Linked DNA regions of Homo sapiens. The protein of the gene in region 2 interacts with the protein of the main gene of each other region in a biochemical or structural test. Each region holds a gene or a part of one and is shown on either strand. Other genes may lie near its edges.

The links.
Region 1: the proteins of RLF (region 2) and RIT1 form a complex in vitro, tested with the Homo sapiens proteins (one study listed by BioGRID).

What each region holds. Positions count from the first base shown.
Region 1 is NC_000001.11:155,897,750-155,901,349, forward strand, and holds the end of RIT1 (GTP-binding protein Rit1), read right to left. Parts: intron 2,870-3,600; coding exon 2,639-2,869; 3' UTR 59-2,638; downstream 1-58.
Region 2 is NC_000001.11:40,185,233-40,189,184, reverse strand, and holds part of RLF (zinc finger protein Rlf), read right to left. Parts: intron 131-3,952; coding exon 1-130. UniProt on the Homo sapiens protein: May be involved in transcriptional regulation.

The sequences.
Region 1 (3,600 bases), about 120 Mb from region 2:
CTTTTGCAATGATTCCAAAAACTCTACCCACTGATAGGGAAGCAAAGGAAAGCCCAAGTTGTTTAAAAGTTTTGTATTATGTCATACAAACTGTCTTCACATACAAGTGCATTAAAAAAATTATCCCCCCCTCCTCCTCCCCAAACATCACAGTAGACCAATTCTTGCTAATATATGACAAAGTTAAAACATATGTCCCCTCTGAATTCTAAACAGCTAATTCTAGACACTAACATCTGGATCTTATAATTTACCGGTCTGGTATGGACATGAACAGTTCCAGTGCCTTTCAACTTATCCCTGAATTTTTCTCTTCTCAAAGTTCTAGGCAGTAATTTTAATGCCCTCAAATTAGATAAAGCTGATTACTTAGAGCTTATAAATTAGCTACACTTTATGACACTAAGAATAGAGCTATGACTTATGCATATCATACCTGTCAAGCTACCTAGCACCACGAATAGAACTAATATTAATGGATGGACTAATACAAGGATCTAATATATGACAGTGATAGTCTTAAAAACACCGATTTGTTATTTTCCTTATATATAATCCAAATTCCTTTCTATCCTTCTGGCAATGTTTCTACTGCCTGACTACCTTAAATAACTATATAGTGTCAATTTCTTGCTTGGGCCAGGTGGTGGCTCATGCCTGTAATCCCAGCATATTGGGAGGATTGCTTGAGCCTAGGAGTTCGAGATCAGCCTGGGCAACATAGTGAAACCTCATCTCTATTTAAAAAAAAAAAAAAAAAAAAAAAAAAATATATATATATATATATATATATATCTCTTAATGTTAATAACAATTCCCTAGGTCACTAGTAATAAGAAGCTATGGGCTTTAAACTTAAAAGGTGCTAAACCAGTTTAAATGTAAAACATTCTCATAATAGAATTGCACTGTATTTCTTTTCTACTTTGATGCTTTTCCAAAGTGCTATAGTTCCTGTGAGATTTGTGTCCTGCACAGAATCAAATGCTAGGTCTTTCACTTTTGGATGGCTGAGTACCATAAAACATGATTTATTTGGTAACAAAAATGTTTCCAGGAGTTTAAAAAGGGACCACTACTCAGAGCTAAAAAAGTTCTAACAGTCACTTTTTAAAAAAGCTAGTTTATCATTTGTTTATAAAGAAAAACACAACTCTGTCCTACTTCCTCTAATAAAAATGGAAAATATTAAGATGAGCTGTGTGCTTATAAAGAGGTGCTACACAAGTCATCTTACGTTTCTAGTCAACACAAACATTGCTTCAGTGACACTTAATATTCAATACATGATGCATTACTCTTAGCATTTTTGCATTTACTCTCCGCATATAACAAGGTCAGATATCAAAACAGTCCTGATCTTAGACAACTCACTACCAATATTTAAAGCTGTTTCCTCCTAGGACTACAGTTCCTAAACTATGCACAGGGAGCAAAGTGGTATTCCCTTAGGATAAACTTGGTCAAGGCTCAGATAACCCTGAGATGAACTTAGCAAAGTCCTTGTAAAGAAATCTTCAGATGGGAAACTCCACCTATGTGAATTTTAAAGCTTTAAGACTGACCCATTCAACAGAAATAGCAGATTTTCTCAGAGCACTGAGTCTAGTGATTGTCCACGTCAAGGAGGCACACACACAATTTTACCCACACCCCTGATGTCTCTTCTGTATGGAAAATGCAATCAGTGATGAAGGGCCGAAAAAACATCTTGCCAGCTGTAGCTCTTTTACAGAGCACAAAGTGGGAGGAAGCAATGAATATAAATGTGTTGGTGTGTGCGTCTGTGGGGAAAAAATAAACCTGTACAAGGCAATGGCTGATCCAACTATGAATTTTGATTAAACACGTTTAGTAATACAGTTATGATTCCCAAAATGTCTACCTTTGAAGGTAAAAAAAAAAAGAAAACCCTGAAATGAAGAGTAAAATAAGGTTCCCAGGAGAAACCTTCATCACATTTTATGCTTCTGGCTGTTCTCACTTATCCCGGTGAATTTGGGCCAAATGTGTACTTCTTAGAAAAGCGAAGCTTGTACTGAGAATACTGTTCTGAACCTACCTTTTTAAGTCCCTGCAAACATATAGCCCAACTTTCCCAAATCTCACCACTCCATAGTCTGCAACAGGTGTCAGCCTCACAGGTATCTGCTGAAATTTGGCACTGATCTCATTAGCCCCAATTTCCCTACATGATTTTTGTTCTGTCTCTAGGAAGCATAGTGTGAATAGAAGAGACTGAGGTCTTTCTCTGGGATAGTCCCAGGAAATTGAAATTAAAGGATAATGTGGAGTGCAGAGCCAAAAACTTCCCTTGTGAACTTAGTCAAACACACATGGTATACATATTCTCCTGGGTATAAACAAATTTACATTAATTAATAGCGCAACAGAACCCAAAACATTGGTAGAACAAATTCTAATGTGACAATTTAAAAGCAGACAGTGCTCCACTGGGTTAATAAATCATACTTAACTAAGAGACAATACTTTAAATACCACATCATTAAAAACTCCTAGTAGGCATGTCCCTCTTATCAGTTAAGTGAAAGAGCAAGCACCATACTCAGTACTGCAGGTTACTGGACTGCTTTGATACAGCACTGCAGTTCACAGATAAACACTTCACATCTTCTCTTCAAGTTACTGAATCTTTCTTCTTCCGGAATGGTGATTTTAGCCTCTTCCATACACTGTTTTTGGGCTTAGATTTTTTCTCCATGGCCAGTACTGCCTCCTTTTCTTTCCTACGTATCTCCCGTACAAGGGCATGGAAAACATCATCAATATAGTAGCGGTATGCAGCAGATGTCTCAAAAAAGGGACAGCTGAATTCTCGGGCCAAGGCCAATCCTTCTTCCTTGGTGACCTTTAAGGGCAAAATGTGAGAAAAGATAACAGTGAAAAACAATTAAATTGTCCAAAAACCTGAATGCACCACCACCTTAACACAAAGAAAGCTTCTCAATTCTGGAGGTGTTCAAGCATACAGCACTAATTTTTGTAATTTTAGGCTAGATTACTTCTAAGGTTTCTTATTCTGCCTTCAAATGATATGATTCTATTTCTAGTCTACTTTTTTTTTTGAGACAGAGTTGCGTTCTTGTTGCCCAGATTGGAGTGCAATGGCATGATTGTGGCTCACAACCTCGGCCTCCCGGGTTCAAGTGATTCTCCTGCCTCAGCCTCCTGAGTAGCTGAGATTACAGGCATGCGCCACCACACCTGGCTAATTTTGTATTTTTAGTAGAGACGGGGTTTCTCCATGTTGGTCAGGCTGGTTGTAAACTCCTGACCTCAGGTGATCTGCCCACCTCGGCCTCCCAAAGTACTGGGATTACAGGCGTCGGCCACTGTGCCCGGTCTCTAGTCTATTTTTAAGATACTTTTTGGAACAGGGAATAGTTTTAGATATCAAATACACAATCTTAATTTTCCCCATACTTTTTATTTTAAGAAAGATAAATAGGCTGGGCTTGGTGGCTCACACCTGTAATTCCAGAACTTTGGGAGGCTAAGGTAGGAGGATTGCTTGAGCCCAGGAACTTGAGACCAAGCTGGGCAATATGGTGAGACCCTACTTTTACAAAATTTTTAAAA
Region 2 (3,952 bases):
GGACATCTTCACATTCAGTAGTTAAGTATGGACGTGCACTGGCAAAGCTTTGGATGGCAAGTCGATATACCTCCAGAAGATACACAATATGTTCTGATGCATTCTTGTTGCTTGCATATTGCAATAAGGTCTACAAAATAAAATTAAAAATTATTTACAAATAAAAATAATGAAACAGATTGTCTTTGTCCTCAAACACACCACATAGCTCTCCCATTTTTTTTCTAACAGATGCATATACCTTTTATTTGCCTTTTAAGGCTCTGGTTTGTTTAGAAGCTTCTATTTTCATCACTTAATGAATGATTTCTGCTGAGTTAAAGAAATGGCAGAACTACTCTTTTGATGTCAGAATAATTCTAAGAGTAGAGCCATAAAATGTCTAGTTGTTCTCACTATAGGTCTGGAGTTGCCATCTCTATAATTCAATAATGAGTTTTCAACCATGTGCCAAGCACTGGGTACATAAGAATAAGACTATGATCCCTGCCTTCTACAACAAGAGATGAATTATTCCTGAATATGACTCTCAGTTCTACAGCACCATAAAATCCTTTTTTTTTTTTCTGGACACATGGAATTGATTAGGCTTCCAAGGGTTAATTTATGCTAACTAATTTCTAAAAGGTTAATGTTATATTGATATTTTTATTTTTCACTAGCCCTGTATCCTCAACAAAATATATATTTATTTTTTATAAAGTTTATGAAGAAAATTACCATATAGGCCAAATGCCAGTTTATTTGGTTACAATGGGGGGAATAGTCCTCTTACCACACAGGGTACCCTATTCCTCATACTGTGGCATCTGAGAAGTTATCTGGTGAGTATTGAATCTAAACCAAAAGAAAATGAAACCACAATAAAGCCTGATAAATTATATGTGTCCTATCACTAAAAATTTGTCCAAATGATGGTGGAAAGCTGGCTTATGTTCTCCCTGGACAGTGTTGAAAAATCACTGCCAAATTCATGTTTGGGGACTCTCCTTCTGAGTTCCATGGAGTTGTTTTCTCTCTTGTTCATATATATCTTCCTTCTGACAACTGATTAGGTTTTGCCTATTCTTAATTGGTATATCTAGTTAAGACGTGAAGTATGTAGTACAGTCTAACATAAGCAGGATACAGCCTTCTCCCTGGAATACACATTCTGTCTGACTGGGCTAGGGAGTTCCTAATAGGCTTTTGGTTGGGGATACTTCTATAGGCAAGTCTTATTTTCAGAGGATAGCTTTAACATGAGTGAAATACATCTTATCTGAATTCATTACCCTAGAATAATGTCTTCAAACATTCCTAACTTCCTGTCTTTGATTTTTCTGCCTAAACAACTACAAATAACTACAATAGTAGCGCAGGATTCTGCTGGATTTTCTGCAGCTTTAGTTTCCACACAAATGGTCCCTGTATGAGTTCTGGTAACTGACTGTTAGCATCATCTTGATTACTTTAACATTTAAAAAAAGAGAGAGAGAGAAACAACTTACAAGGAAATATACCATAGACCATTATACCATATACAGTAAAAGTTCCCTTAACTAATATATTGCATTATCTGATCTTTGCATACCTGAATCATTACAGTCAGTTGAGCTATTTTTAGTATACCGACCTACTCAATTAAGTATCTTGCTACTTGGTCACAGTCACTTTAGATAAATGCCCTTCTGTAATTTCAGAAAAGCAACATGTCACCACTTAATCAAATCCCTAATTTTAATAAAATAAAAAAACTGAGTAACATTATAAAACTGACCCCTAAGCAATCCTGCTTCCCAGCTGAATTAGTAGAGAAAGAATGCAGAATGGGTGTCTGTTACATAACTAAGATTTCACCTAATTTATTAAAATCAGCCAGGTGCTGTGGCTCACGCCTGTAATCCCAGCACTTTGGGAGGCCGAGGCGGACGGATCACAAAGTCAAGAGATCGAGACCATCCTGGCCAACATGGGTGAAACCCCGTCTCTAAAAATACAAATATTAGAGATGGGCGTGGTGGCGCGCGCTTGTAGTCCCAGCTGCTCAGGAGGCTGAGGCAGGAAAATCGCTTGAACCTGGGAGGCGGAGGTTGCAGTGAGCCAAGATTGCGCCACTGCACTCCAGCCTGGCGACACAGCAAGACTGTCTCAAAAAAAAAAACCAAAAAACAAAAAACAAAGAAATTTATTAAAATCTATGTTACAAAAAAATTCTGGTTTAGGTCAGTAAGTTACTTACTGTCTGCATTGGCTAATCTAAGAATTAAGGAGTTTCAAAAATTTATATTTAGTGCCAGATTTATGTTCCTTAAAGTCAGACATTATGTCTCATCAATCCTTATAGGCCTACCACTCCTCTACCCACTTCCACCCCCACAGGACATTCTCAAGTCTCACTAAATGTCTGCTGAATACATTCACCATTTTATTCATTTGACAAATATTTTTCAATAGATTATCACACATAAAGTGCTAGATGCAGTGGGGGCGGGCAGACATGTGGCCTATCCTCACAGAGCTTTCAGAATGAGTCAATACAACATGATGGCTGAAACCACACATGCAAATTAACCAACTGCTAACTAAAGTATGCAAAGAGAAGGACAGAGTGCATACAGATGGGGTTAGTCTTTCCACAATCCACCTGTCCACTTAGAACGCTCTTGCCACCAATCTAATAGCTTCTGACAGACATTCCACCAGGACTTCTGTAAGCTACACAATTTCAAAGATTCAATACTCTTGAGGAACTTCCAGTTTGCTCTATACTAATTTATACTTTTTATATTCCTAAATCTTTACCCCCTCATGTGTTGGTTCAAATTAAGTAGTGAGATCTCTTATACCCACTATAAGCATACTCTGGGTATGTGAAGAATGGCTGGAATAATCAATCTTCTTCATTATCACTTTTTTTTTAAATTGAGATAGAGTCTCATTCTATCACTGCTGGTGATCCTCCCACTTCAGCCTCCCAAGTAGCTGGGACTACAGGCATGAACCACTGTGGCTAGCCAGGCATTTTCTTTCTTTCTTTTTGTTTTTTTAATCAAGTCTCACTCTGTCACCCAGGTTGGGGTGCGGTGGTGAAATCTCGGCTCACTGCAACCTTCACCTCCCAGATTCAAGTGGATCCTTTCACCTCAGGCTCCTGAGTAGCTGGGATTACAACTGTGCGCCACCAGGCTCGGTTAATTTTCCTGTTTTTAGTAGAGATGGGGTTTCACCATTTTGGCCAGGCTGGTCTCGAACTCTTGACCTCAAGTGATCCGCCTGCCTTGGCCTCCCCAAGTGCTGGGATTACAGGCAAAAGCCACCTCGCATCCAGCCTTTGTGGTTTTTTTTTTTTTTTTTTTTTTGCTTTTTTTTTTTTTTTGAGACAGTCTCACTCTGTCAGCCCAGGCTAGAGTGCAGTGGCACGATCTTGGCTCACTGCAAGCTCCACCTCCCAGGTTCACGCCATTCTCCTGCCTCAGCCTCCCAAGTAGCTGGGACTACAGGCACCCGCCACCATGCCCGGCTAATTTTTTTTTTTTTTTTTTTTTTGTATTTTTAGTAGAGACGGGGTTTCACCGTGTTAGCCAGGATGGTCTCGAGCTCCTGACCTCGTGACCTGCCCGCCTCGGCCTCCCAAAGTGCTGGGAGCCACTGCGCCCGGCTTTTTTTTTTTTTTTTTTTTTTTTTTAATGCAAGATTAGGTTGAAAGGATTACAGCCATCCAAATAACAGGATGGCTGTAATCCTTTCAACCTAATCTTGCATTTAAAAAACTGGACTAGGCAAGGTGGCTCACGCCTGTAATCCCAGCACTTTGGGAGGCCGAGGCAGGTGTATCACTTGAGGTCAGGAGTTCAGACCAGCCTGGCCAACATGGTGAAACCCTGTCTCTACTAAAAATACAGAAAGTAGCCGGGCGTGGTGGCGCATGCCTCTAGTCCCAGCTACTTGGGAGGCTGAGGCTGGAGAATTG